7 separate regions of the Homo sapiens genome follow, and all the other regions are linked to region 1. The links come from fine-mapping of genetic effects on gene expression. A gene starts in region 1. Each other region holds a variant in brackets. All regions are shown on one strand. Distances are from middle to middle.

Region 1 (4,404 bases):
TTTTTAAATAGGACTTTCACTTTCACAGCTTATTTAGCTTTTAGTGATATCCTCCCCATGTCACTAAATATTCTTTGAAGGTGTTTTTAGTGGTTACATAAGCTTTGCGTTTATTTCATCCTTCCCCAAGTCATCAGATACTTGGTTACTTAAAAGTGTTCACTATTGGCCGGGCGCGGTGGCTCACACCTGTAATCCCAGCATTTTGGGAGGCCGAGGCGGGCGGATCACGAGGTCAGGAGATCGAGGCCATCCCGGCTAAAACGGTGAAACCCCGTCTCTACTAAAAATACAAAAAATTAGCCGGGCGTAGTGGCGGGTGCCTGTAGTCCCAGCTACTTGGGAGGCTGAGGCAGGGGAATGGCGTGAACCCGGGAGGCGGAGCTTGCAGTGAGCGGAGATCCCGCCACTGCACTCCAGCCTGGGCGACAGAGCGAGACTCCGTCTCAAAAAAAAAAAAAAAAAAGTGTTCACTATTAGAAATACACTTTAATTAAAATGCTTGTACATATATTTTTTTGCCACATCTCTGTCATAGTTTCCCTAGAGTTGATGGCCAGAAATGGAATTACTGAATCAAGGAGTATAAACATTTTTTAGCCTTTTAAAAATTGTGGTACAGTTTTTAAAACTGTGTGTACAGTTCAGTGGCATTAAGTACATACACATAGTTGTGAAATCAAAGTATAAACATTTTATTTTATTTGAGACAGGGTCTGGCTCTGTCTCCCAAGCTGGAGTGCAGTGGTGTGGTCACTGTCACAGCTCACTGCAACCTCGACCTCCCTCCCAGCAATCCTTTCACCCGGCCTACTTAGTAGCTGGGACCACAGGCCTGCACCACCATGCCCAGCTAATTTTGGTAGAGACAGGGTTCTTACTATGTTGCCAAGGCTGGTCACAAACTCCTGGGCTCAAGCCATCCTCCTGCCTCAGCCTCCCAGAGTGCTGGGGTTACAGGTGTGAGCTGCCACGCCCGGCCCAGAGTAAAAACATTTTAAACATAAATCTGCGGTCTGTTCTTAGCACCTGCGGCTGCGTGGGAGGTATGGAAAGGCGCACTTTGGGTTTCGTGAAATCTCAAGTCAGGTCTTGACTTCTCTCTTTCCACAGATTCATCTCTAGTCTCTGTAAAATGCCAGCCCTCTTCTGGGTTAACAGCGCCTAACCGACATGCGCCACTAGTTCTTCCTTGTTTCAAAGTGTTCTCTAAACACAGAGTTAGTTCATGTTTTCATCAGCGCTGATTACGTACATATGAGATGTGGCGGACACTGGGCTAGGGGCTGGTTATTCTCTAAGGCAAATCTGCACAGTCACTCCAGCCTGTCCCCCTTCCCAGCTTCTTCCCCAAATAACATTCACAGAGTGTCTTCCACCCAAAGACAGCAGGGAACAGCCCCGATTCCTAAGAAACCCTCAGCGCGCCTCCTCACAAACTCTTGGCTGCTCCATAAACCATTGGTGTAGGTGGAATCAAGTGGCTTCCTGCTTCACAGGTCTTCGTCTTTACCACTGGCATTTCCTCCTCTCGGAAAACCCTGAGGAGTCCCTTTCTGGGCAGTCTTGATTCTACAGCCTCCGCCTTCCGAAGTGTGTGAGTCAGCACACGCTAAGATCACTTTTGATATACAGTGGGCATTCAATAAAAGCTTGCTTACTAAAAACTCTCACGTATCCATTAAAGCCCAGGATTACAGAAAAGCCTTCTGACACTATTTGCATTTTGGACTCAAATGGCATCAGTAATGCACCTCCCTAATGGGTTTATTAAACCCTTAAACAACAAAGGTACTACTTTTATTTCACTCCTACATGATATACAGTAGCTCTACGCACACAAACAAGACCTAATGTTTACTTAATAAATGATAAAGTCAGATGTAATGAGTCTGCAACACGCACATCTCAGAGCGAACTTCCCCTTTATCATAGCACTATGCTTGGATATTGTCATATAATTGTTGTCATCCAGCAGTCCAGAATTGAAAGTGCTTGGGCTTGAATATTTAGCAGCGCCTTAGTTTTCTAGAACCTGTGATCTACCAACTCGATCCCTGGGTGAACCATTCGGCCCTCCTAGCAGGAATTACTTAACTGAGTTAGAGGTTTTCAACTTTGGACCTCAACAAACACATTGTTTCTATCACGGTGTTCCCAATGACTCACGAGGTCAGATAGTACTTCCTGATTACTCACCAAACCACCTTACTTTTTGCACAATTCGAAACCTAACTTTAGGAAAGAAGGCCGTTTGGCATACTGGAAACAAGAAACAACGCGTGCTACTGCGAACCGCACCGCACGGGGTGCGGAGACTTGGTGTGACTGTCGGCTCCGGTGGGCGCCCCCCACCGCACCCGGTTTCTCGTCACCAGGGCTGCGCCGCGGGGCAGAGCGGAACGACCGCAATATCCCTCCCCGAGGGCGCTGGCTGCACTAGCTAGTCCACTCCCGAGCCTAGCAGCGCCGTCAGGCCCACAGCGCCAACGCCGCGCAGGGCAAGGGTGCAGCCACTGGCGGGAAAGTAGTACGCGGGCCACTTCCTGGCTAGGACTACAGGGACCTTTGCAGCCCCCCACCCCGCAGCGCCCACGCACCTGCCTAGAGGATCCAGCTAGCTCCGGACGCTCCCCGATTCCGCGCTCCTTGCTCGCGGTACTTCCGTAATCTAGGCTCTCCCTGCCCCCGGGGCTGGGCGGGCGCCACTGCGCCGGAACCCCGCCCCGCACCAGGCGGGCGCAGCGTCCCAAGCAGGGACGATAGCCGGAACGCGCCCGGAATCGGGTCCGCCAGGTGGGGAGCGGGTCCCCGGCCTCTGGCGGGGTTTCTCTTCCAAGATCAGCCGGAGGGTTCAGGGCTTTCAGTTTCATATTTCAGGAGGGATTTTGTCAATGAGGATTAATACAAAGCTCGGCTTTGAGAGAGGTGGGTGGATGGTGCTGTCCTTTAACTGAGAAATGGAAGGGATTCACAAGGCCGGGAAAGAAGAAAATTTCGGGAAAGTTCGTGGAAACAGGAGAGTGAGATAATAAATTTACTTTAAGCCTTCCTGCGTTTGAAATTCGTGACAGTGTAACTAGTTGGAAATATATTTATCTGCCATTCAAGAGAGGCAGGGGGCTGGAGATACAGATCTGAGATTCACTGAAATGGGAATAAAGCAATGGGGAAGATTCAGATTTTTAGGATACTGAATAAAATGAGAATAGAAAGGATAGAGTAGAGAATACAGTGGAAAGGGTATGGGGTTGAATCCTGACTCCACAATTTATTACCAAGGGGGCTGGGGACAAGGTAATTTACCAAGTTTCATCATTACAACCTACTCTATAGGGTTGTCTAAGAAACAACAAGAGATTCTGGGGGAGGAGAGAGACTGATTCCTAGAGTTACCACATCGTAATGCTCAAAATGTCCAATCTTCAACAAAAAATTATGAGGCATGCAAAAAAAAAGGCGAAAAAATGGCCAATTCAAAGGAAAAAAGAAATGAACAGAAATTGTCCCTGAGCTGAGGAAGCACAGACATAGGAATTATTAGACAAATACTTCAAATAAACTGTCTTAAACATGGACAAAAAGTGAAAGGAAACATAGAAAAATAACTGAAAGAAACAACCAGGAGAACAAAGTCTCAATAAATAGAGAATATGCAATAGAAGATGTGCAAATGGTCAACAAGCATGAAAAAAAGCCCAGCATAACTAATTATCAGAAAAGTGCAAATTAAAACTGCAATGAGATACCATCTTACACCAGTCAGAATGGTTATTATTAAAAAGTCAAGGAACAACAGATGCTGGCAAGGCTTTATTGAAAAGGAAATGCTTATACACTGTCAGTGGGAATGTAAATTAGTTGAACCACTGTGGAAACCAGTTTGAAGATTTCTCAAAGTGCTGAAAACAGAACTGCTATTCAACCCAGCTATCCCATTACTGGGTACATATTCAAAACAAGAGAACTCATTCTACCAAAAAGACACATGCACTAGTATGTTCGTCACAGCACGCTTCACAATAGGAAAGACATGGAATGAACTTAGGTGCTCATCGACAATGGACTGGATAAAGAAAATGTGGTACATTTGCACCATGGAATACTACGAAGCCATAAAAAGAATGAATGGAATCATGTCCTTCACAGCAACGTGACTGCAACTGGAGGCCATTGTCGTAAGTGAATTAATGAAGGAACAGAAAACCAAATACCACATGTTCTAATTTGTAAGTGGGAGCTAAACACTGGGTACTCATGGATATAAAGATGGCAACAATAGACACTGGGGACAACTAGACAGGGAGGGAGGGGGAGGGGCAAGGGTTGAAAAACTATTGGGTACTATGCTCAGTCCCCGGGTGAGGGGCTCAGTCATACCCCAAACCTCAGCACCACGAATTA
Region 2 (4,404 bases), 150 kb after region 1:
GTCCCATGAGATTTTAATGGAGCTGAAAAATTCCTATCATCTAGTGAGGTCGCTCTCATAACACCACAGCATTAAAACACATCGCTCGTGTCGGGCGCGGTGGCTCACGCCTGTAATCCCAGCACTTTGGGAGGCCAAGGCAGGCGATCACAAGGTCAGGAGATCGAGACCATCCTGGCTAACATGGTGAAACCCCGTCTCTACTAAAAATACAAAAAATTAGCCAGGCGCGGTGGCGGGCACCTGTAGTCCCAGCTACTCAGGAGGCTAAGGCAGGAGAATGGCGTGAACCTGGGAGGTGAAGCTTGCAGTGAGCAGAGATTGCGCCACTGCACTCCAGCCTGGGCGACAGAGCGAGACTCCATCTCAAAAAAAAAAAAAAAAATCACTCGTATGTTTGTGGTGATGCTATTGTGAATAAACCTACTTTGCTGCCAGTCATTTAAAAAGCAAAATAAATAAAATTTTAAAATAAGAAAAATCTTATAGATTATGGATATAAAGAAAGAAAATATTTTTGTACTGCTGTACAGTGTGTGTTTTAAGTGTTATTGCAAAAGAATCAAAAAGTTTTAAAAAGAGCCTGGCATGGTGGGCTTATGACTGCAATTCCAGCTACTGGGGAGGCTGAGGCTGGGGGATTGCCTGAGATGAGGAATTCAAGACCAGCCCAGGCAACACAGGGAGACTTTATCTCTTAAAAAATATAGCTGAGGTTAATTTATTGAAGAAAGAAAAATATTTTGTATCAATTTAGTGTAGCCGAAGTGTACAGCTTTATTGAGTCTACAGGAGTGTATAGTAATGTCCTAGGCCTTCACATCCACCCACCACTTACTCACTGACTCACCCAAAGCAACTTCCAGTCTTGCAAGTGTGCATTCATAGTAAGTGTGCTATGCAGGCATGCCACTTTTTATCTTTTACCCTCTATTTTTACTCTACCTTTTCTACCTTTAGATATGTTTAGATACAGAAATACTTATCATTGTGTAGTGATTACCTACAATATTTAGTACAGTAACATGTGGTACAGGTTTGTAGCCTAGGAGCAACAGGCTATACAATACAGCCTGGTATGTAGTAGGCTATAGCACCTGGGTTTGTGTGAGTACATGCTATGGTATTCGCAGGATGACAAAATTGCCCAACGATGCATTTCTCAGACTGTATCCCCACCCTTAAGTAAGGCATGACTGCAGTGATGTTCTGTCCTGGTTTCCTCCTGTGTAAACCCCCACAGCATGTCCCGCACTCACTATACGCTGCCTCCTAACTAGCATCTCTTCAGCTAGATCAGAAGCTACTTGAGAATAAAAGCCATTCTTACCACTCCTTCAGAGCCTCCAAAGTATCAAGGCCTTTGCAGGCACTGCAATTACAGTGGACCCTTGAAGAACACAGGGATCGGGGTGCCGATCCCCTGCACAGTTAAAAACCTATGTATAACTTTTGACTCTTCTAAAACTTAACTGCTAATAGCCTACGGTTGACTGGAAGCCTTACTGATAACATAAACAGTCCATTCACACATATTGTGTATGTTATACGTATTATCTGCTATATTCTCTTACAATATAGCAAGCTAGAGAAAAGAAAATGTTATTAAGAAAAATTATAAGGAAGAGAAAATACATTTATAGTACTATACTGTATTTATCAATATTGTGAATTTGCATGGTCTGTTTACAAGATGAGTTGTCTGAAATGATGGCAACTGCAGCTGCAGACCTCAGTCTATGGTACATAGCAAGCAATTCAACTGTTTCTTGTAATGTCATTATTTTTCTCTGCTTTCCAGGAGTACTTCCAGCATCACTAGTCACACTTTGTATGGGTCCTATGGTGTTAACCAAGGTATTGCACTCAACACGATGAAAAATACACAGGAATCCTGAGAGATCACCTTTTACCAATGGTAATTTGCAATTTACTAGAGAGATGAACTGCTCATGTGGAGACGATGAGCGTCACACAGCGTTTTTTTTTTTTGAGATGGAGTCTCGCTCTGTCGCCCAGGCTGGAGTGCAGTGGCTGATCTCAGTTCACTGCAAGCTCCGCCTCCCAGGTTCACGCCATTCTCCTGCCTCAGCCTCCCCAGCAGCTGGGACTACAGGCGCCCGCCACTACGCCCGGCTAATTTTTTGTATTTTTAGTAGAGACGGGGTTTCACCGTGTTAGCCAGGATGGTCTCGATCTCCTGACCTAGTGATCTGCCCACCTCTGCCTCCCAAAGTGCTGGGATTACAGGCATGAGCCACCGCGACTGGCCCCACACAGCGTTTTAAGCAGATACACACTTGAGCTCACACTTGAGCTCACCGCTAGCAATGAAATGATTACAGCATTACAGTAAGCACTGCAGCTGATTTTATGCAGTTATGATTTAACTGCATCTTTATGTTTGTTTACATTCTCCTGACTGCAAATGGTCCCGTATATTCTGTTATAAGTCTTGATAAATTTTAACTTTTTATTATAGATTTCTATATATTGTATGGGAGTAAAAGATAAAATAAACTAGTATCTACATATATTTTATGCATCAATGACATATCTAACTTTTTCTTAATTTT[T/G]TTGATATTTCTAGGCTATGCAATTCATTAGTGAGCTTTTTCTAATTGTCACAAATCTCAAAAAAATTTTCCAATATATTTATTGGAAAGAAATTCTGTATAAATGGACCCAGGCAGTTCAAACTGATGTTGTTCAAGGGCCAACTGCATACCTGCCTGAGGGGCACGTGGCAAGGGTGAGATGAAGGTCCTCCCGGGCTTCCTGGCGTGTGTGTAATACTGGGTCTCCACCGAGTTCCCAAAGCAGGCCATCTATGAAAGAACCTTCAGGCTTGAAAAGACAGAAAACGTTTCCATAATTTATTGGTTAGATTCTGTACATGCTAATGATATACTTACTGTTATTAATTATAGCTGGACTAATCAACATCTTCTTTCAGATTTAACATGAACTTACCAAAGCCAAGCTTGATTTTCCAAATCAAAAACAAAGTGGTCTTCTAGAGTGGGCACTTCTGTTTGAGAAAATGCTCTTTTGAGGGAGAGTAGGGGGCCCTAGAAGGGCTAACAATAGCAGGGAACTCTCCAAGTAGGAGGAGAAGACCATCATATACAACTTTGTGGAATGTTTCTGTCTTTATGACCATGTTGCAGGACTAAGAATTCATGGCACACAGTTGCAGAATCATTGACAAGGTAAGCTGAAACCTCAAGAAATCACCTTTTTGTGTTTCTCCCTTCTTATGCATTAATAGTCCTAGTCAAATAATCTGATTCCATGTGGCTGAGACCAAAGAGGCCAAGAAAACAAGGGTGTTTAGATCTTCCCTGTTCCCCAACCTCCAAATCTAGGTGATCCCATCAGCTGCAGATGTCTTGTCTTTGCTGATCACATCCAGTAAAGAATTGCTGAATATCCTACTTCCTTTTATTTTACAGAAGGAGTTTACATGCTGCATTTGAAAACAGAGTTCATAACCAATATGAAATTTAGCGGAAGTAACTTGACCTCATGGAATTTGTGGGAAAACTCAGAATTCAAATCACTTCCTTGCAGCCTCTCAAGTGAGTCGAAAGCAGAGCCCCTACTCCGTGCTTCTCTCGCCTGGAACTCACTGTCACTGTCTGCTGGTCCACTGCTCCCAGTCACTCCAACGTGAGGAAGCCGGCTTCAGAGCAAACCACAAGGAAATCTGGTTTATGAAAATGGAGCAGTCTCCTGATAACATCTGGCCGTTCATCACTAGCTTCTTCAGGTAAACCCCACTCTAAAAAGAAATGGATCCTACAGGTCTCCTACTGGATGCCCACAAATGGCTGAAAACTGCCATTTGATTTGATTTATTCTCTATACACTAGAAGTTCTCTATGTGGTTTGTTGGGCTAATGAGCCTAAGGAGATTGTATTAGGGTTCTCCAGAGACAAAACAAATAGGATGTCGAGAGAGAGAGAGAAAAAAGAGAGAAAGATTTGAAGGAATTGGCTCACATGATTGTGAGACTGGCAAATCCAGTCTACAGGAGAGGCTGGAGGCCCAGGCACAGTTGATGTAGCTAAAGGCCAAGGGCAGTCTGAAGGCAGAATTCCCTCCTCCTTGGGGGACCCAAATGTTTTAACTTCTTTAACTCATTGGGTAAAGCCCACCCCCATTATGGAGCAGACTCTGCTTTACTCACATCTACTGATCCAACTGCTAATCACATCTGAAAAACACCTTCACAGAGACTTCCAGATTGGTGTTTGGACAACTGGGTACCGTGAATTAGCCACATTGACACGTAAAATAAATCTTCCCAAAGATTCATGTAGAATTCCCAGAGAAGGGAAAGGTTGCATCAAAAGTGAGTGGAGTGGCTGAGCCGAGACAAGTGTGTTCACTTCTGCAGG
Region 3 (4,404 bases), 150 kb before region 1:
ATACATAATTTAGATGGTTACTCGTTAAGCTAATGCCTCCCGCTTAGGTGTGGGGAGAAAATTATTTATCTCATAGACGGGGAAGATTTCATTTGTTTTTATAATGGAATGCTTACCAATTGACTTTAGTAAGAGCAGTTTGTTAAATCAGATTTTGAATTGGTGCATAGATTTGAAGTTCATAAGTTAGTTTTTGATGTGATATACTTAGCGCCTCCCTTCTTCCCTTAAAGTGGCTGGATTTATTCTCCCATGAGGCTGTGCGCTCATTGTTGTCCTGCATTATGGAAATTACATCGGTTCTCCGTGGTGTCTTCATGAGAGGCAATTTTACTCCTGACTTCTACCGTTTTTTTTTTTAATTTAAGAAGGGACATTAAAGAGACTCTGCTTGCTGCTTTGCGGGGACTTTTTCCTCTTGAAAACAGTCCCAGGGCTGCAAACAAATGCTTTGGTTAAATACCAGAAAGGAACTTACTAACAACTCCTTACTTGGGTCCAACCAACTGTCATTCATTAACCTGTTTGATTTTCTCAGCAATCCTGTGAAGTCAAGCGGCCGCTAGGAACCCAGCTCGTGTGTGTGCACGTTGAGGCCCCGGGCCTGGTCACCACCCATAGCTGGGTGCTGGCCTGGCAGTGGGGACCAGGCCTTTCATACCCACAAAGCAGGGCTGCCTGGGCCTGGACCCAAGCTCATCTGGCCAGCCCAGTGATGGCGACCCTGACTCAGTTTCCCTATCAACAGAACAGGGATAAGATACTGAGTACCTTGGAGAGGGTTTGAGGATGGAAGGAGGCGATGCCTGCCCAGGGCATGGAACAGAGCCAGTACCAAGAGCTTAGCTCTGGGCATTGCAACTACCCCAGTGGAATGGCTCCCGGACCCCTCCCCGAACCAGCTCCCCCTACTCCAACAGCCATACCGCCAGGCAGACAGCATCTGACCCAGAGGGCCCCACCCTCACGCCTGCTTCTCCCCAACTGTGGGGCCTCAGGTGGGCATCCCTGTGCTCCAGGTCTCAGCGTCCTCAGCTATGAAACAGGCTGCTGAGGCCTCCCTAGGGCACCCAGCATCCCTGCTGAGGGCAGAGGGGATCTTGCTGACAGGCTGCAGGAGACCACCCCAGGAGCCAGGGGTTTGCCCAGTCTCCTCTGGGGCAGCCGTCCAGGCAGAACCTCAGCCCCCAGATAGCAGGATCAGGGCGAAAACTAAGTCATCAGGACCACAGGCCTGCAGGCCATCCCTGCCCGGTTCATTCAGCAGCCTCAGTGACAGGTGCTGGGGAAGGCCCTGGTGCAGGCAGCCTTTATTTCAACTTTCCCTGGACCCCCAGCCCCTCCAGCTCCAGTCTCTGTGTTCCCATAGAGACCCCCAGGGCACAGCAGGGAGTGCTTTCCACAGCCCCAGCTGCACCGCACTTCCAGCTTGCCTCTGGAAACAGCCACAAATAGCAGGGCAGCACCAGAAGGCAGGCCTTTAAGGAGAATGAACACAGGTCTCCACCCTCAGACAAACACAGGTCTCCACCCTCAGATGAACACAGGGCTCTACCCTCAGACAAACACAGGTCTCCACCTTCAGACGAACACAGGCCTCCACCCTCAGATGAGCACAGGTCTCCACCCTCAGCACAGGTCTCCACCCTCAGGTGAACACAGTCCTCCACCCTCACATGAACACAGGCCTCCACCCTCAGAAACAGAAGCTCCACAGAGCCCCCAAGGGACCCTGGGGCACCCTGGAAGCATCCACTGCATACTGGAGCCACCTCAAGAGCCATGGGGGCTGGGAGCCCCGGGGTTCTGGGAA[A/G]GCTCTCCCCAGTGGAACATTGGAATAAATGTGCGTAGCTGTGAAAACTCCCTTTACATAAAATCAAAAAGAGAGCCTGTGTAAAACATTTCTAAATACCCAGGACCTTAAGACACAAGCCCTTCCTGCTGGGCACCTCCACAGCCGCTTCCTGCCCTTCTTGCCTCCAAGCCGGTGCAGCTCCTTCTAAAACACCTTGGTGCACCCAGGGTGCCCAGAGGAAGGCGGGAGCCCACGGGAGGCACGTGGATGGGAGTGAGCCCCTCCACCAGCTTGCTGGGAGGCAGATGGTCAGGGAAGGGGTGCCCCACCACTCTACTGCAGAAGAATCTGTTACCATGGAAGCATCCGGGGCAACGAGGAGGTGACTTTACACCCCAGGAAGTGGGGCCCTCTGCCCCAGGGATGGGTGAGCTCATTTGCCAGGAGGCCCCTTCAGACTGAGGCACCTGGGGTGGGGGGTGCAAATCCTGGTCCTGCCCCCAAGGGCCCTGGGCATGGATGCCCTCAGCAAACTCTCCCCAAGACCCAGGCACGGGGTGAGGCGGGACCTGTCCTGGAGCTCCCAGGCTGGGGCAGCAGGGAAGGACAGGGCGAGGGGCCCTGGTGTGAAAGTCCAGGTGGGAACGCCCTCAATTGCCCCCCCCGCCCCACCCAGTCCCTGACCTGAAGCTGCCTCTGGGACTGAGGAGCCTCACTCTGTCCCTGGTCCAGTGGCCCGGGCTCCCCAGCCTGTGGAGTGACAGTTGCAAGGCAAGGACAGGCAAGTGCCAGCACCCATGGCTGTGGTCCCAGTCTGGTTGCCTCAGCCTCCAGAGCCCCCAAGCCTTCACCCAGCCTTGCAGGCCCTACTGCCCACACCCGGGCTCATGGATTTGAGCCAAGCTCACCTGTCTGCCCAGTGGCTTTGGATTCAAGAGCGTCCATGGCTCCCCCTGCTCCCCAGCCTTGTCTCATAGTCCCCTGGGGTGGGCTGAAGGTCTCTGAGGGAAACCTGCTCTCACTGTGTGGAGCACAGGCCCTGGCCCACAGCAGGCCAGCAGGACTTTCTTCTTGGCTCCTCAAATGGTGCCGCGTGGGCCGTGGGCACATGTGGCTGGCGCCCAGTGTCAGTTCCTTTCATTCACTTCCCTCTAAGCACCTCCGTGGGTGAGTGGCCACCATCCTGGACACACACAAAGCCTCAGCTGGCGTGTGGCAGGCTGGGGGGAGCTCAGCCATTCCACTCAGAGGTGGTGGCCATGGCCACTGCCCCGAAGAAAAGGAAGAACTTGTTTACAAATTGTTCACTGAAAATTGAGTTGCAAACATTGGCATCAGGCCTTGCCTGCCAGGCCACCCGGATTGGAGGGTAACTTATGAAGATTGCTTTACCTGGGGGCATGCTGGTCTATGCCTGTGAGTAATTCACACCAGGCTCATTTCAGATGCAGTCAAAGACCCCCATATTTCACCACAACCATGTAATCACAGAGCCACGTTAAAAATTCATTATTGTTTAGAATCCAGCTTGGTTTGAAAAACACTTATTATAAAATTCAACGGCCTTTGTAAATTACCAAAAGGTTTACTCAAGAATCCTAGGTGCTGTGGTTTAGACCGGGAACTTACGATTTTATTGATTCTGTGGGATTTTGTCTGTCCCTGCATTTATAAGGCATGATTAGTGAGTGATGAGATAATAAACTCCTCCGTGCTGGTTCGGAAATAATGATGAGTTGAGTTTGCATCCTCAAATTTCTCATGCAAACCACTCCTGCTCCAAAGAGTCCCAGATGCAACTTTGGGTGGTTTTGCAGGCAGTGTGGCCATCATCTCCCAAGGGGAGAGAGCGCAGGGGGAACTGGCTTCTCTGCTCGCCTATTTGTGGGATCCCGGCAGACCTGCCCACCGCATCCCAGGAGAGCAGCCATGGAGCCTGATTCTGTTTCCAGGCCAGCTCGAAGCGTGCTGGGAAGCACTGGCAGAGCTCCTGCAGATGCAGATGCTCCTCTGCCTCTTTCGTGGCAGTCCAGGGACTAGATGTGTGTCTGCACAAGCCCTCATCACTTACACGTGGTTGAACAGGCAGGACTTGGTGAATTCCTTCTCAGTTTTGTCCTGAGAGGCAGACAGCGTGCCCCTGGCAGCCTTGAAATGAGGGGTCATTTGGGGATCCTGAAAGCTGAGGTTCTAGCCCAGGAAGTGCCCCAGAGCCCGGCCATCCTGACACACTGACTCTCCTTCCATGCTGGGAGACAGCAGCTCTGCCCTGCCCACCTGCCCAGAAGTGGCCAGCTGGCTTTTTGCCAGGTTCTGCCCTCTGCAGCCCCAGAGCTACACCTGTCCTTTCTTAGAAGCTGCCAATGGCCATGAGTGTCCAGGCCACTCTGGGAAGGACTGTAGTAAAATAGTCAATGTGTTTAATCCATGTTTCCCACTGGCCCACCCATGCCTTTGACCCACAGGACAGTGGCCACGCATGTGCTTGGGAAAACCACCATAACAGGTCCAGACAAGAGTGCTGGCCTGAGCATGGGTCACGCTAACGTGGGTGGCTCAATTAAGGAACAGGGATGGACTTCCTGTCCTGTCGCCCCCACACACTCCTG
Region 4 (4,404 bases), 46 kb before region 1:
GGAAGAATCAATATCGTGAAAATGCCCATACTGCCCAAAGTAATGTATAGCTTCAATGCTACTCCTATTAAACTACCATTGACATTCTTCACAGAATTAGAAAAAACTAGGTTAAAATTCATATGGAACCAAAAAAGAGCCTGTAGAGCCAAGACAATCCTAAGCAAAAAGAACAAAGCTGGAGGCATCACACTACCAGACTTCACACTATACTACAAGGCTACAGTAATCAAAACAGCATGGTACTGGTACAAAAATAGACACATAGACCAATGGAACAGAATAGAGATCTCAGAAGTAACACCACACATCTACAACTGTCTGATCTTCAACAAACCTGACAAAAACAAGCAATGGGGAAAAGATTCCCTATTTAATGAATGGTGCTGGGAAAACTGGCTAGCCATATGCAGAAAATTAAAACTGGACCCCTTCCTTAAACTTACACAAAAAATAACTCGATACGGACTAAAGACTTAAATATAAAACCAAAAACTATAAAAACTCTAGAAGAAAATCTAGGCAATACCATTCAGGACATAGGCACAGTCAAAGATTTTATGAGGAAAACATCAAAAATTGCAGCAAAAGCAAAAATTGACAAATGGGATCTAATTAAACTAAAGAGCTTCTGCACAGCAAAAGAAACTATCAGCAGAGCGACCAGACAACCTAGAGAATGAGAGAAAATTTTTGCAATCTATCCATCTGATGAAGGTCTAATATCCAGAATCTACAAGGAACTTAAACAAATTTACAAGAAAAAAAAACCCCATTAAAAAGTGGGCAAAGGACATGAACAGACACTTCTCAAAAGAAGACATTTATGTGGCAAAAAAATATGAAAAAAAGCTAAACATCACCGATCATTAGAGAAATGCAAATCAAAACCACGATGAGACACCATCTCATGCCAGTCAGAATGGCGATAGTTAAAAAATCAAGAAACAACAGATTCTGGCAAGGCTGTGGAGAAATAGGAATGCTTTTACTCTGTTGGTGGGAGTGTAAATTAGTTCAACCATTGTGGAAGACAGTGTGGGTCTTCCTCAAAGACCTAGAACCAGAAATACCATTTGACCCACCAATCCCATTACTGGGTATATACCCAAAGGAATATAAATCATTCCATTATAAAGATACATGCATGTGTATGTTCGTTGCAGCACTATTCACAATAGCAAAGACATGGAATCAATCCAAATGCCCATCAATGATAGACTGGATAAAGAAAATGTGGTACATATGTACCATGGAATACCATGCAGACCATGTCCTTTGCAGGGACATGAATGAAGCTGGAAGCCATTATCCTCACAAACTAACACAGGAACAGAAAACTGAACACAGGATGTTCTTACTTACACGTGGGAGCTGAACAATGAGAACACATGGACACAGGGAGGGAAACAACATACACTGGGGCCTGTAGCGGAGGCAGGGAGAGGGAGAGCATCAGGATAAATAGCTAATGCATGTGGGGCTTAATATCTGGGTGATGGGTTGATAGGTGCAGCAAACCACCATGGCACACATTTGCCTATGTAACAAACCTGCATGTCTTGCACATGTATCCCAGAACTTTAAAAAAAAAAAAGATAGTTGAATATATAACAACACATTGTAGAATTTATAATATATGAAGAAATAAAACACACGACAACAATATCACAAAGGATATGGGAAAAAAGAAACGAACGTATACTGGTTGTAATGTAATGTATTCTGGTTGTAAGGTTCTTACATATGAAGTAGTATAATATTGTAGGCTGTATGTGGTAAGTTACAGATGTAT[A/G]TAGTAGTAAACCCTAAAGCAGTGCTGACCAATGTAACTTTCTATGATGATAAAAATGCTCTACATATGCACTAAGTAATAAGATAGCCACTGGCCACATAAAACATTTTATTTTATATTTAAATGTAAATATACACATGTAATTAGTGGCTACCATATTTAACACATATTTAACATGTGGCTTTAGAGCAACAATCAAAACTTAATTTTTTTATTTTTTGAGACAGGGTCTCGCTTTGTTGCCCAGGCTGTGCAGTGGCGCCATTATGGCTCATTGCAGCCTCCACCTCTCAGGCTCAAGTGATCCTCCCAACTCAGCCCCTCAAGTAGCTGGGACTACAGGCATGCATCACCACACCCAGCTAATTTTTGTATTTTTTGTAGATCTGGGGTTTCACCATGTTGCCCAAGGGGTCTTGAACTCCTGGGCTCAGGTGATCCATCTATCTCAGCCTCCCAAAGTGTTAGGATTACAGGTATGAGCTACCACACCTGGCCAACAATCAAAACTTTTTAAGAGAGAGAGAACTGGCTGGGCGCAGTGGCTCACGTCTGTAATCTCAGCACTTTGGGAGGCAGAGGCAGGAGAATCACTTGAGGTTAGCGGTTTGAGACCAGCCTGGCCAACATGGTGAAACCCCATCTCTACTAAAAATACAAAAATTAGCTGGGTGTGGTGGTATGTGCCTTTAGTCCTAGCTACTTGGGAGGCTGGGGCAGGAGAATCGCTCAAACTGGGAGGCAGAGGTTAGGTTGCAGTGAGCCAAAATCACGCCACTGCACTCCAGCCTGGGCAACAGTGAGACTCTGTCTCAAAAAAAAAAAAAAAAAGATAAAATTAATAAGCCAATAATGGAGATACAATGGAATCATTTAAAAAACAATACAAGAGAAAGCAGGAAAAGCGAGGGAAAGGAACAAAGAACAAATGGTACAAATAGAAAACAACTAGCAAGAGGGTAGATATAAATCTGACCAGATCAATAATTGTATTAAATAAAAATGACCTAAACAATACAAAGTGCAGAAACTCACAGATTGGATAAAGCAGCAAAATTCAACAGTACGCTATCTAAGTAGTATAGGGTTATAGTGACAAGTCAGTCAGTCTAGATGTTTTGAAAAGGAGAAAACCATCAAATGGTCACATAAATTGAAGTCTTGGAAACACTGCCATTTAATCTGGCAATGAGGAGGACATAAGTCGTCCTAGGCTGGGCACTGTCTTCATCCTTGGTTTCGGCACCACAATTTTCTCTTTATTGTACCACTAACTATCCTTTTCTGTTACTTCCACACTTAAATATTGGGGATTACGAGCTAGACCTCTATCTTTACAAACAGTATATTAAGAGTTATAAGACAAATATGTCCAGGTTGCCATGGGAAAATGAAGCCATGGGTCTTTCCGGGGGAAGGCAGGAAAAGCTTAGATGGAGGGATTCCTAAGCTAAGACTTGTTTGTTTGTTTAGAGACAGAATCTTGCTCTGTTGCCCAGGTTGGTGTGTAGTGGTATTATCAGAGCTCACTGCAGCCTCGAACTCCTGGGCTCAAGTGATCCTCCCGCCTTGGCCTCCAAAAGTGCTGGGATTACAGGTATGAGCCACTGCACCTGGTATATATGGTATTTATATAACAATGCATGAATACCATATATTATGATATGAGAACATTATAGTCACAAGATGTCAATACATTCTGGGAGACCTGAAGGCTTGGGTTAGCAATAGTTCTGATCAGACTTTACCCATAGGTAATACCTTCTGTGAAGGCTGTTTTCTTGTGGACCCTATTCCTAGGGAAATATGTAAGTATTAAGGAGGAAACATTTACCAACACACGTAGGAGGATAACCTGATAATATTAAGTGGCAGCCTCTCAAATGAACCCCAGGCTTCTATACATACAGTTTGGCCATACATAGAGCCAGCATTCTTAACTGTTCAATAATCACCTCTTCATTACTTATTCCCATCCTGCAGGTGGATATCTTAGATGTCAAGAGCAATAATTTACCCCTTTGTCTATATTAATCTTGAATGTGCCCCTAGCCCCAGCAAACATTAAATTTTCAAAACACCATGGCCATGTGTCACCCTCAGAGGCGATACTCAAACATATGGCCCCATCTGCAAGAATAACTAAAATACCTGCACTAGAGTTAGACGCTGACTACACACAATCTAGCACCTGCCAGAGGCCTCGTGAAAACACCTGGTATTTAAGGAAAGTAGTCTAGTGGACCTGCCAGCTATTCCCTCTTCCACACTGTCCACGTCACGTCCCTGCTAAAGCTAATCACCTAAAAGCACAGGAGCTGGCCCAAGGAGGACCCGGCAGAAATGCCTCCCTGCTTTATGATTGGACCATCTGCTAGGTGAGCTTACTTCAGGAAAATTGTAAATATATCACACTCCTTTTTTTTTTTTTTTTTTTTTGAGATGGAGTTTCGCTCTTGTTGCCCAGGCTGGAGTGCAATGGCACAATTTTGGCTCACTGCAACCTCTGCCCCCCAGGTTCAAGCGATTCTCCTGCTGCAGCCTCTCCAGTAGCTGGGATTACAGGTACCTGCCACCATGCCCAGCTAATTTTTGTACTTTTAGTAAGA
Region 5 (4,404 bases), 53 kb before region 1:
GCCAATGATATGTTGGCAGATGAGATACAAGCAGGGGCGTGAAAAGTGTCCATGCAACGGGCCTGGCACTCTCTTGTTGCTACTGAGGACTCCTCCACCACTATGTAGTGGCTCACGCCTGTAATCCCAACACTTTGGGAGGCCAAGGCAGGCAGATCACCTGAGGTCAGGAGTTTGAGACCAGCCTGGCCAACATGGGAAACCCCGTCTCTACTAAAAATAGAAAATTTAGCTGGGCGTGGTGGCAGGCACCTGTAGTTCCAGCTACTCAGGAGGCTGAGGCATGAGAATCGTTTGAACCCAGGAGGTGGAGTTTGCAGTGGGCCATGATCCCACCACTGCACTCCAACCTGGGAAACAGAGTAAGACTCTGTCTCAAAAAAAAAAAAAAAAAAAAAAAAAAGAAAAAAGAAAAAAAGAAAGGCACTGCAGAAAGGCACAAGAGAGGAACTTTTTTTTAATACAATAAAATTTCTCAGAACTAAAGACCACCAGTTACATACAATGAATGAAAATCATACTGTTATGAAATTTCAGAATACCAGAGATAAAGAGAAGGTCTGAAGTTCCTGCAGAATTCTAAAAAGGAAAATAGGCTGGGTGTGGTAGCTCACACCTGTCATTCTAGCACTTCGGGAAGCCAGAGCAAAAAGGATCCCTTGAACCCAAGAGTTTGAGAAAAGCCTGGGCAACATGGTGAGACCCTGTCTCTACAATTTTTTTTTTTTTTTTTTGAGATGGAGTCTCGCTCTGACGCCCAGGCTGGAGTGCAGTGGCGCAATCTCAGCTCACTGCAAGCTCCGCCTCCTGGGTTCACGCCATTCTCCTGCCTCAGCCTCCCGAGTAGCTGGGACCACAGGTGCCCACCACCACACCCGGCTAATTTTTTGTATTTTTAGTGGAGACGAGGTTTCACCATGTTAGCCAGGATGGTCTCGATCTCCTGACCTCGTGATCCACCCACCTCAGCCTCCCAAAGTGCTGGGATTACAGGCATGAGCCACCGCACTCAGCCAAGTTTTTTTTTTTTTTAATTAGCCAGGTGTGCTGGCACAGGCCTGTAGCCCTAGCTACTCAGGAGCCTGAAGCAGGAGGGTTGTTTGATCCAAGGAGGTCAAGGATGAAGTGAGCCATGACTGCACCACTGTACTCTAGTCTGGGTGACAGAGCAAGACCCTGTCTCAAAAAATAAAACAAAACAAACAAAAAAAACTCATCATAATATTATACATTTCTTGGCTCAGTGGTAAACATCATTTACATGATAATCACTGACTATTGTGAAACAGGTCTTTTGGAATGAAGGGGAGAGGAAAAGTAGTGAGTTAGGTGGGTGGAGGGGGCAAGAGCTACACGTCCAACTTCCAAAACAGGAAGTCAAAAGATAATTTCTGAAACAGGCGAAATCAAGAAAAAGCATTAAAAATTAATATTTAAAAATTGGAGGCAAAATCAAAGAAACAGCTCAAATAGTCCAAATGATTCACTGTCTCTGGAAACTGGTCTGGGGAGAATCAGGGGCAGGAGTAGTGCTTCTTGTTAGAAGTTTTGTCAGCATTATTTCACTTTTCAACCACGTGCATACATTGCTTTGATAAGATAAAAGTAGTGTTAAAATAACAGCTCTTAAGAAATCAAAGATGCACTAACCTTTTGTTTCAGTTCATGTGTATCACTGAAAATGAATTCAATCACATACGGCATCTCAATAGACATAGTCAAAGAGAAGCTAGCAAAAATGAAGAGAAAGTTGTCTTAGTCTACGATCTTAAATTTCTATCTGAAATTATTTCAAACAATTCTAAATGGAAATTTAAACCAGAAAACCAATATCCATTGAATTGACAGGTTTTATATTTTAGGTACTAACCTTTGCTTTGTTCCTATTTCTTTTATACAAATCTTCTCTACTGTATCCTGTTAAAAGAAAAATACATTTGTATAACTAAGCATATATTAAGTTTCACAATGAGACTAAAGTGAATGTAATCTTGGCAAGGCCACAACTGTCAGCAAGACAGCTGGTTTCACTTTCAAGCAGTGAAACACAGAAAGTTTGCTCATGGAATGACAGGAACTTCTAAAATACAACTCACCATTTTGACAGAGATTTTAAACTCTACATATGTCTGTGTGTATACACACACACACACGCACACACACACACACACACATTTTATACATGTGCTGTACATACAAAGTAGGAAGTTTGGAGGGATATACCGAAGTATTAACCATTAACTCTGGGCAATGGGATAAAGGATGGTTTTAATTTTCTTATTTTGGCTTATTTGTATTCTCTATGCTTATCTAGTTCTTCATGATGAACTTGCACTACAGATATAACATTTTTTGAGTGATTAAG[CA/C]GAATAAAAATATGCTTATTGATCATATCTGTAACTTTTATTCTTTTCATTTTATACACATAATGTATCTAAATGCATGTCAGTAAAATTAACTTTATGCCTAAAAGATTATTTTACATGTTTTTCTCCCCAGGCATAAATTCCTCCACAGCCCTCCACCACTCCCCCTCCACTGCTGCCAAAATGCTTCTTCAAATCTTATGCGTACAAACCTGAAGGTTTTCATTCAAAGCCTTGTCCTGTTGCCAGGGTGCTACGGTGGCGGGCATGAAAAAGACACCAACAGTGCCCAGGATGCTGAGTTCTGTGATGTAGGTAATTTTTATAAGAACCTTAGCCTTAGGGGGTAAGTTTCCAACACTTACAGTAAAAACGTCCTGAAACAGAAACATATGACTTAGCTTCCAACTTGAAAGCATACCCATTATATGCCAGCTAACTCCACGTACTTCTTAAGCAACTTGAATGACAACCTGCCAAATTCTTCCTCAGAAAACAGTAATAAAACCTAAAAGACACATTGGTGGGGCTAACGGAGAATCCTGGAGCCATTCACCAGTGGTGGGAACAGGGTGATGTCCGTGGCAGGCAGATGGAGAGGGGCCCCCTTGGCAGCGGAACTGGGAAGAGGCACTCATGGACTCTGCCCCAGGGGGCTCTCATGTGTGAGCTCTCTGCACACGTGGGCTCTGCTGCACGGGTGGGCTCTGCTGCACGGGTGGGCTCTGCTGCATGGGTGGGCTCTGCTGCATGGGTGGGCTCTGCTGCACAGATGGCCTCCACAAAGCCCTTTCTTGAAGACCCTCCCTGACCTCCATGGCACCCAACACCACTTTTGCCAGCAGCTGTAGAACCAGGGCAGTTTTTTCTAAGCTTGGCCCTTGCTTAATTATTTTACCCTATGGTAATTTCTCATGTTATTTTTATTTTTATTTATTCATTATTTAGAGATAGGATCTTGCTCCGTCATCCAGGCTGGAGGGCAGTGGTGCAGTCACAGCTTAATGTAGCCTTGAAACCCCAGGTCTAAGCCATCCTCTTAAGTAGATGGGACTACAGGCACGCACCACCATGCCTGGCTGATTTTTAAATATTTTTGTACAGATGGGGTTGCCCAGGCTGGTCTCAAACTCCAGGCCTCAAGTGACTCTTCCACCTTCTGCTCCCAAAGTGCTGGGATTACAGGTGTGAGCTACCACACCCAGCCTATCATGTTATTTTTTTACTAAAAAGTCTTTAGCTTTCTTTTAAAGGGATGTTGATAATAGCTATATAAGGTGGCAACCCCATGACTAGCTAGGGCAGAAAAAAGAGGCTAGATACATTTTTTTCTGATAACTATGCAGAGATCCTCTCAACATCCCCAACTATGTTCACCATTCTAGTTGACCACCCCATCATGAAAATTTTGTATATTTAGATTAGGATTAATTTAGGCTTAAAGGTTAAATTATTACTTTTGACATCAAAGACATCCATTTACAGGATGGAAACAGACAATAAAGAGATGATTATTAAATACTTAATAGTGCTAGCCCTTAAAAGAAATGTATGTATAAACACCTGGGGTTCATTTGAGACACTGCCACTTAATAGAGTGGGATTGCAGTTCTGTTTCTGGGTAGGATATAGGTGGATGCAGAAAATGTCACTTCTGTTATAACACACCAGGCAATCTACAAAATCATAACTTGTTTTGAACTCATCAACCAAGCGAACTGAATTCCAAAGAGGGGACAGATGGGACACAGGATCTGTGTGAACTCCTCCCGGCTGAGAGTGGGTAAGCTTACTGGTTTAGAAGAATTGGGAGCTCCTGACCCAAGGGGAGTTTGCATTCTCTTGCAGGCGTTTCCCCATATCCCCACAGCCTTCCACTGGGCCCACTGGAAAGGCTGAGCAGGGCAGGAGACCAAGGGGAGCACCTCTCCGTGGAGCAGGTGTGTGGGAGGTGCTGGGGCCACTTCCCTGGATCCTTTCCCCACATGAAGCAAAAGCCTCCAGCTGCTGGGGGAAGGGCAGCAAACTCTCACTTCCA
Region 6 (4,404 bases), 92 kb before region 1:
GAGTGCAATGGCATGATCTTGGCTCAGTGCAAACTCCACCTCCCAGGTTCAAGCGATTCTCCTGCCTCAGCCTCCCAAGTAGCTGGGATTACAAGTGCTTGCCACCATGCCTGGGTAATTTTTGTATTTTTAGTAGAGATGGAGTTTCACTATGTTGGCCAGGCTGCTCTTGAACTCCTGACCTCAGGTGACCCACCCGCCTCCGCCTCCCAAAGTGCTGGGATTATAGGCGTGAGCCACTGCGCCCAGCCGTGATTTTAATTTTTTTATGAGTGTGTAGTATTCCATGGTGTATATGTACCACATTTTCTTTATCCAGTCCACCATTGATGGGCACCTAGGTTGATTCTATGTCTTTCCTATTGTCAATGGTGCTGAGAAGAGCATACAGTGCATGTGTCCTTTTGGTAGAACTTACTTTCCTTTGGATGTATACCCAGTAATGGGATTGCAATGTCAAATGGTAGTTCTATGTTTTCATATGTTTGTTGGCCACTGGTATGTCTTCTTTTGAGATGTGTACGTTTATATCTTTTGCCCATTTTTAATGGGGTTATTTGTTTTGAAGATACAATCAATTTATGATCCTGGGAGAGCAAGAAGCAAGGAGCCAGCAAGTCTGGACACATTCCAGAGGCCACGAAGGGTTTTATGCCCTGAGCCCTGGATTCCATCCAAGCCACGAGGGGTTTTATGCCCTGGGCTTAGGTTGTAGTGCGGCAGGGCAGCCTTCCACTCTTAAGTACAGAGCTTGGTGTTCCATAGGCCACAAGAGGTTTCAAACTCTGGACCCAGGACATGTTCCAAGACTCTTTATATTATGTCAGACTAGCAAGTGTTGCCTCAGCTTTTCGCCCAACAATTGGACTGATGAGATGCTCCACTGTGCCCAAGCATCATGGGTTCTTAGAACAAGGCCCTGCACGCACCAAATATGTTCCTGTCACCACAGTCCACTAGCCCTTCAACTATAAATGTGCACAGGAGTCGCCTGGGGGCCTTGCTAAATAAAATGCAGCTTCTGATTCAATAGCCTCGAACAGGACCAGAGATTCTGCCTGTCTTGATGAGCTCCTGAGTGAGGGAGACAATGCCAGTCCACAGACTCACACTTTGAGATACAGCACCTGGGCCACTGTGTTCAAATATGCTTGATAACCTGGAACACCTATTAAATATCCAAGTTGCCAGGATTTTCTTCTGGAAATCTTGATTCAGCATGTTTTGGATGGAGCCTTGGACGTTTGGGAAAACTAGAATTTCTTTCTTTCCCTTTAGACAAAAGTCAACTACTGCTGAGGCACGGGCTTAATAAATGTTGACTAAAATATCCAACTCAACGACCAATCCTGTGTAATTTTCAAACTGTGTCAGTAACTTGCTGGGTCCAACCTCCATACCCTGGCCGTGTGACGGATGAAGAAATGCACTCAGACACAGGTATCCCATGAAACAGCAGGCTAGGGGACCGGCAGCTCCCAGACACTGAGGAGGGTGCTGTAAAGAGTCAGCAGCTGTGGCCCTGACAGGCTGGGGCTCCAGGCATTTATTCAGTACAGATTTAAGGACAAAGGTCTTAAGTAAACACCACTAGAGGGTAATTAACATTGCTGACCTCCCAAGTAGACGGCAGTCACGTGCCTGCAGATTATCAAAGGTTGATCTTAGGACCACATGAGTAAACAAGCCATTTAGATAAACTCCTCTACATTCCTATGTATCTACGC[C/T]CTGAGCTTTTAAGAGAATTCAGCTGCCTTCAGCCAAATCTTTTACTGAAGCTATGCAAACCTCCTGGCCTTCCAAGAAGTTTTGTGTCTGTTTCCTACAACTTAATTTTTATAATTTCTCCCACCACCCTGACAGATCCCCTACAAAAGATCATGTTTCTTCTCAGATTGCTCAGTCCAGCTGAGCCAGCTTTCCACTGGACTCCTGAATGTGAGAAGGACACAGGCTCCCAGGACTATCCAGAAGCATCTCTCATCACCTTAAAACTCTGAAACACCGGCTGGGTGCAGAGGCTTATGCCTGTAATCCCAACACATTCAGAGGCTGAGGTGGGAGGATCGCTTGAGGTCAGAAATTCAAGACAAGCCTAGGCAGCAGAGCAAGACCCCATCTCTACAAAAAGTACACCCCAAAATTAGCTGGGTGTGGTGGCACATGCCTGTAGTCTCAATTAATTGGGAGGCTGAGGCAGGACTATCCCTTGAGCCCAGGAGTTTGAGGCTGCAGTGAGGTATGATCGCACCACCACACTCCAGCCTGGGAGACAGATTGAGACCATCTCTAAAACAACAACAACAGGCCGGGCACAGTGGCTCACACCTGTAATCCCAGCAATTTGGGAGGCCGAGGCGGGTGGAACACCTGAGGTCAGGAGTTCGAGACCAGCCTGGGCAACCTGGTGAAATCCCATCTCTACTAAAAATATAAAAAATTAGCAGGGCATGGTGGCAGGTGCCTATAATCCTAGTTACTCGGGAGGCTGAGGCAGGAGAATTGCTTGCACCAAGGAGGCAGAGGTTGCAGTGAGCTGAGATCACGTCATTGCACTCCAGTCTGGGCAACAAGAGCAAAACTTTGTCTCAAAAAAAAAAAAAAAAAAAAAAAATACATAAAAAAATCAACAAAAAAAATGAGACACAGAAAACTGAAATATTTTAAGTTTCATTTTATTATTGCTTGTTAGTTGATTAAAGTAATTCTTCTTCCACTTAATTTTTAAAGACAGTAATTGCTACACTGAATGAAACCTTAATGAAGTTTCATTATAAGTATCTATTATCATTTGATTATTTTCTACATAGAAGCATGCAAAAAGTTTAAAATTCAGTTTCATTTGACTTAGCCTTGACTGTAATGGAGGACTCTATGAAGAGGGGACACAGTGCTTATGGGCTGGAGTCCCAGCAACTGCTTGGTGGCAGAGTCCCAGTCGTTCCCCAGTTCAAGCCGTGGGCAGATAGATGGGTACTGTCCTTCAGTTCTTCTTACCCATTCACTTGCTTGCTTTATTGCCTCAAAAGCCCAGGGAATATTCCTAGATTAAAAAAAAAAGTTTCAGATTTCAGAATATAACATGTGAAATGTAATGTGGTACTAAACCCATCACATTATATCAGACAAAATGATTCTGCCAAAAATTAAGATATTTAATAAAAGCAGTTTTCCTTGGCATCTTACGGAAGTTCTTCTGCCCGTCTGACCTTGAGCTTATGCACTGCATTGTCAAGTGCCCTGTGCCCGCCACCTCCTGGCTTCCACGTGCCTCCAGGCATCCCTGCTGCCTGCAGCACAGCTCACGTTCCAGCCGCTCTACAGTTGTTTATGGTTGTCCCCTTTCCACGCTTCTCAGTCTAAATCCTATCCATTCTTCACGCACAAACTCAAGTACTATTTCACAAATGAGGCTTCTGTTTCTCTCTCCTTCCCACTGTACTGACTTGATTAGGTACCTTCAGAATATCTGAGAGTCCCCCATGAAACTGGCATACATTCAGTTGTGTCACGTAAACCAGGAACAACTTGGTAGAATAAGCATATCGAGTCAAGTCTGTGTCCACTAAATGGTGTCAAATATTTGAGACTGTTGAATATTCAAGTCTATTCAACACTCAGAAAAATTCTGAGGTTGTTCATTAATATTAATTAGCTACTTCCTCATTTGTTCTGTCATCTGCTAGAACTTGTTAGTGAACAAGGGGCAACATATACCAAAGTTCTTCAGAAAATTCTATGGGGAAACTTAATATTTTGAAAATTCTCTCCCTGTTCCTGAATTTTCCCTGTGAACTGGGAAAGGGCCGTCAGTATAGCGTGGTGGTTAAGAGCTGGGTTTGAGTCCTGACTCTGCAATCACATGATATTGGCCATGTGATACTGTGTGGCTTTCATTCAACACTGGGAATCTCAGTTTCCTCAATTATGAGAATAACCTGAGGTCCTATGGGTTTGTGGTGGAAATCAACAAAGCTTACAAACTTAACATGCTTACTAGTCCCTAGTGCACAGTAGGCACTCAATAAATGTTCGCTGAATGTCATGATACTAAATCATGATGAACATACTAAATAAGAAGCATGCCCAAAGTGGTTAAAAGACCAATGTTTCCTAGTAAATATTCATCTACTGATAGTTACTAACTGCTGAAAACAACAAAACTGGCTTTGAATATTTTTACTGATTGGCCTCTACACTTTTTGGTTCACATTCCGCTAGCAAGAAAATCTTGTGCCTACACCCCCATATAATGTGCTCTTGCATCAATGTTATGTACATCCTGAAATAGAAAATATAGAACAAAGTTTCAAATATGCAATAAACAGGAAATAAAAAATATTTAATTTTTTTTTTTAGATGGAGTCTCACTGTGTCGCCAGGCTGGAGTGCAGGGACACGATC
Region 7 (4,404 bases), 100 kb before region 1:
TTCCTGAACTTATTCTTCCTGTCTAACTGAAATTTTGCATCCTTTAACCAACATCTCAGCCTGAGCGCAGTGGCTCACACCTGTAATCCCAGCACTTTGGGAGGCAGAGGCAGGTGGATCACCTGAGGTCAGTAGTTTGAGACCAGCCTGGCCAGCATGGTGAGGTCCTATCTCTACTAAAAATACAAAAAATTAGCCGGGTGTGGTGGCATGCACCTGTTATCCCAGCTACTCAGGAGGCTGAGGCAGAGGAATCGCTTGAACCTGGGAGGCAGAGGTTGCAGTGAGCCGAGATCGCACCATTGCACTCCAGCCTGAGCAACAAGAACAAAACTCCATCTAAAAAAATAATAAAGTAAAAACCAACATCTCCACAGTCCCCCCAGCCCCCGGTAACCACCATTCTACTCTCTGCTTCTATGAATATGATTTTTTAAAATTCCACAAATAAGTGAGTCATGCAGTATTTTTCTTTCTATGCCTGGCTTATTTCACTTAGCATAATATTCTCCAGGTTCATCCATATTATCACGTGACAGGATATCCTCTAAGGCTGAATTGTATGCCTTTATTTATAGATAGCACATATTCTTTATCCATTCATCCACTGATGACATTTAGATTGACTCCATAGCTTGGGTATTATGAATAATGCTGCAGTGAACACGGGAGTGCAGATTTCATTTCCTTTGGATATATACCCAGAAGTGGACTCTCCAAATCATATGGTAGTTCTATTTTTGGTTTTTTGAGGAATCTCAGTGCTGTTTTCCACAATAACTACTAATTTACATTCACACCAACAGTGTACAAGGGGGATCCCTTTTCTCTTCATCCTCACCAACTCTTCTCTTGTCTTTTTGTTAGTGACCATCCTAACAGGTGTGAGGATATCTCTTTGTGGTTTTAATTTGCTTTTCCCTGATGATTAACGAAGTTTAGCATTTTCTCATATACCTCTTGGCCATTTGTATGTCTTCTGTTGGGAAATATCTTTTCAGGTTCTTGGCCCATTTTCCAGAGAAGTAACTTGTTCTCTTGCTATTGTGTTGTTTGATTTCCTTTTTAAAAATAATCTATTAACCTATTGTTGAATGTATGCTTTGTAGATATTTTCTCCCATTCTGTAGGTTGTCTCCTCACTCTATAAATGTTTCCTTTGCTGTGCAAAAGTGTTTTAGTTTGATAAAGTATCATTTGTCTGCTTTTTCTTTTGTTGCCTATGCTTTTCAGTCATATCCAAAAATACCTTGGCCCAGACCAATGTCAAGAAGATTTTCACCTATGTTTTCTTCTAGTAGTTTTCCTATTTCAGCTTTCACAGTTAAGCGTTTACTTTGAGTAGACTTTTGTATATTGGGTGAGATAGGTTGCAATTTCATTCTTCCGCAAGTGGATATTCAGTTTCCCCAGTACTGTTTATTGAAGAGACTGTCCTTTCCCCATCTTGGATTCTTGGCACCTTTGTACTCAGCTGAGTATAAATGCATGGACTTATTCTGGGCTTTCTATTCTGTTCCATTGGTCTAGATGTCTGTTTTTGTTCCAGTAATATTTAAGGTTGTTCTTAAACTTTGTGAGAACCTTTTAGATTAAGTGAGCCAACAGAGATGCTATTTCAAAAATTATACTGGAATTTTTGTAGTGTAATGATACAAAGAAGTTGACATTGGTGGGGTTAAAATGGGGGAAAAAGCCATTGTAAATCCAACCAATTTAAGTTCAATTAGGTTTTCTCTCATTCAGGTTTAGGCTTTAAATAATCATCTAAGCATATTTCACAAATTTTGACAAACACAAATAATTACATTTTTAGTGGGCTCTAAATCAATTTTTATATCAAATTCCAGGAAAACATAGCACTGTAAACTGACTTACATAATTCAGTAAAATCAAGTTTTAGTCTTATTGACTAGTTTCAAGTCCATTAGTTAATACACAGGTTCTGTGTTTAGCTGTATATTAGTTAATATACAGGTTCTGTGTTTAGCTCTACAGGTTGGAATATTGTGTATAAACTGGCAATTTACAATACCATAGTTAAATTAAGAATATAGAGGTTGAATCCTTTGAAATTGCCAGTTTTTAACCATCTTTTGCTTTAAAAATGGCCATTTCACATTGCCCAACCTAAAATGTTATTATTCAAGAAGTTAGCATCAGTTTTCTATTAACTAATGCTAATTCCTTGCTTGAAGGAAAACATTCATTTCAAATTTGATTTTTTTCTTTTTTGCTGAGAGGGGGTTTACATTATTCTGTGTTCACATAATATTTTGATGATTTTGTTAAAGGTTGTTTAGAGGGCTAATATTCAGCTGGTATGTACCAGAGCAGCCTCTTTTTTATGTGTTCATTCATATTAGTCTTGCTGTCTTC[T/TG]GGTTGGTTGCTGCCTGCAGGTTATCATGATGGTAAAAATATTTTATATTGATTTATAGGAGTTCTTTAAAGAATCTGAATGTCAATTTTTCTTAGTATTGCAATTATATTCTCCCCACATGTTGCCTTTTAAATTTGATTGTGATTTATTTTGTTGTACAAAAGTTTGTAAATTTTTGTTTTGTTTTGAGACATGATCTCGCTCTGTCACTCAGGCTGGAGTGCAGTGGCACGATCTCGGCTCATTGCAGCCTGAACCTCCCAGGGCTCAAGCGATCCTCCCATCTCAGCCCCTCTGAGTAAGTGGGACTACAGGCGAGCGTCACCATGCCTGGCTAATTTTTGTATTTTTTATAGAGACAGGGTCTCACTGTGTTTCCCAGACTGGTCTCGAACTCCTGGACTCAAGTACTCAAGTGATCCACCAACCTCGGCTTCCCAAAGTGCTGGGATTACAGGCATGAGCCTTCATGTCTGGAGAGAAGTTTGTAATTTTGAATGTAGTAAAATTTGTTCATCTATGTGTGTGTATGTATTTCATGCTTTTCTGTCATGTTTATGAAATTCACCCTTATACTGATGTAGTAAAGATATTCCACATTTCTTAAAAAATATTCAAGTTCCATTTTTAGTATTTGGGTCTTTAATCTAACTGGAAGTTGGGGGGGAAGTATTTTTTTTCATATGGATAGCCAATTGTCCTAACACCATCAATTGCATGCTAATTTGTTCTCCATTAATTTGTAGTCCCTCTCAGTAATATACCAAGTTCCTATAAATATTCAAAACTGTTTCTAAGTTCTCTCTACCACACTTTTGTAATTATTGTAGCTTTATAATATAGTTTGATAAAGGCAGAATTGTCTTGCTCTTCTTGGAACTTTATTATGACATTCAATTTTAAAATCATTTTGTGAAGTGCCATAATAAAACACTTGTAGGATTTTTATTGGAACTACATTGAATTTATAGATTAACTTGAGAGAACTGACAACTTTGCGATATTGAGTTGTACATGTGAACCATCTTGTTCATTCTTTAATAATATTTTATACTTTTTTATCATGTCTTTGCACATCTTTTCAAAAATTCATTCCTACACAAATTGTGACTGAAAATGGAATCTCTTTTTTTCTATTACATTTGAGTTGTTTCCAATTTTTACTGTGAGAAATAATGCTGCTTTTTTTTTTTTTTTGAGATAAAGTGTCCCTTTGTCACCCAGGCTGGAGTGCAGTGGCACCATCTCAGTTCATTGCAACCTCTGCCTCCTGGGTTCAAGCAATTCTCATGCCTGAGCCTCCTGAGTAGCTGGGATTACAGGCGTCCACCACCACACCCAGCTAATTTTGTATTTTTAGTAGAGATGAGGTTTTGCCATGTAGTCCAGGCTGGTCTCGAACTCCTGACCTCAAGTGATGCGCCTGCCTCTGCCTCCCATAGTGCTGGGATTACAGGCATGAGCCACCCGGCGCAGCCCAATAATACTGCTTTTAAAAATACACGTTTCTTGTTGCACCTGTGGCCACATTTTTGTTGAGTGTATACCTCAGACTAAAATTGTTCTGTCTTAGGGTAATGAATCTTGAACTTTACTTGATAATGTCACCTGTTTTCTAAAACAGTTGTACCAATTTTTACTCCACTGGTATTGTACACTTCAAGCATTCCATATCTTCCCCAATATTTGCAGTTCTGAGTATTTTTATTTTTAGCCTTTGGGTGTTTGTGTGATGGCATCTTATGGTGGTGATCATTTGCATTTCTATAATTACGAATAAGATTGAGGAAGTTTTCTTAAGATTATTAAGTATTTGGATATCCTTTATGTAAAGTAACTTTTTAATTTTCTTAACCATTTTTCTCCTGGATTATTCATCTTTTTTCTCCTGATTGTAGGAGTTCTTTATGTATTCTGATTTCAGTTTTGTTATTGGTCATAAATGTATTTCAAGAAAGCTTTTCTGCTCTGTGATTTGCCTTTTCTCTCTCTCAGGAGTATCTTCTGGTTAACAGAAGTTCTTA

What was found.
Region 2: its variant is fine-mapped to the expression of PARP4 in whole blood (INTERVAL, PIP above 0.99).
Region 3: its variant is fine-mapped to the expression of PARP4 in fibroblasts (GTEx, PIP above 0.99).
Region 4: its variant is fine-mapped to the expression of PARP4 in whole blood (TOPMed, PIP above 0.99).
Region 5: its variant is fine-mapped to the expression of PARP4 in whole blood (TOPMed, PIP above 0.99).
Region 6: its variant is fine-mapped to the expression of PARP4 in whole blood (INTERVAL, PIP above 0.99).
Region 7: its variant is fine-mapped to the expression of PARP4 in whole blood (TOPMed, PIP above 0.99).

The regions. Positions count from the first base shown.
Region 1 is chr13:24,510,106-24,514,509 of GRCh38, forward strand. It overlaps PARP4 (poly(ADP-ribose) polymerase family member 4), which reads right to left and starts at 2,673. Exons shown (of 34, transcript NM_006437.4): 1 at 2,601-2,673. All of the region lies in intron 1 of LOC105370117 (a long non-coding RNA gene), which reads left to right. RefSeq lists a silencer at 2,671-2,830.
Region 2 is chr13:24,664,075-24,668,478 of GRCh38, forward strand. No RefSeq gene overlaps it. Among named protein-coding and RNA genes, the nearest start is that of ATP12A, 14 kb to the right of the region's middle. The variant T/G (reference allele first, on the strand shown) is at 2,577.
Region 3 is chr13:24,359,747-24,364,150 of GRCh38, forward strand. No RefSeq gene overlaps it. Among named protein-coding and RNA genes, the nearest start is that of LINC00566, 30 kb to the left of the region's middle. The variant A/G (reference allele first, on the strand shown) is at 1,814.
Region 4 is chr13:24,464,188-24,468,591 of GRCh38, forward strand. All of the region lies in intron 17 of PARP4 (poly(ADP-ribose) polymerase family member 4), which reads right to left. Among named protein-coding and RNA genes, the nearest start is that of PARP4, 46 kb to the right of the region's middle. The variant A/G (reference allele first, on the strand shown) is at 1,796.
Region 5 is chr13:24,457,394-24,461,797 of GRCh38, forward strand. PARP4 (poly(ADP-ribose) polymerase family member 4) reads right to left here. Exons shown (of 34, transcript NM_006437.4): 18 at 2,579-2,743; 19 at 1,871-1,917; 20 at 1,651-1,729. Among named protein-coding and RNA genes, the nearest start is that of PARP4, 53 kb to the right of the region's middle. The variant CA/C (reference allele first, on the strand shown) is at 2,366.
Region 6 is chr13:24,418,272-24,422,675 of GRCh38, forward strand. It overlaps PARP4 (poly(ADP-ribose) polymerase family member 4), which reads right to left. Exons shown (of 34, transcript NM_006437.4): 34 at 2,660-3,043. The coding sequence ends at 2,848. Among named protein-coding and RNA genes, the nearest start is that of LINC00566, 89 kb to the left of the region's middle. RefSeq lists an enhancer at 1,342-1,847. The variant C/T (reference allele first, on the strand shown) is at 1,728.
Region 7 is chr13:24,409,872-24,414,275 of GRCh38, forward strand. No RefSeq gene overlaps it. Among named protein-coding and RNA genes, the nearest start is that of LINC00566, 81 kb to the left of the region's middle. The variant T/TG (reference allele first, on the strand shown) is at 2,380.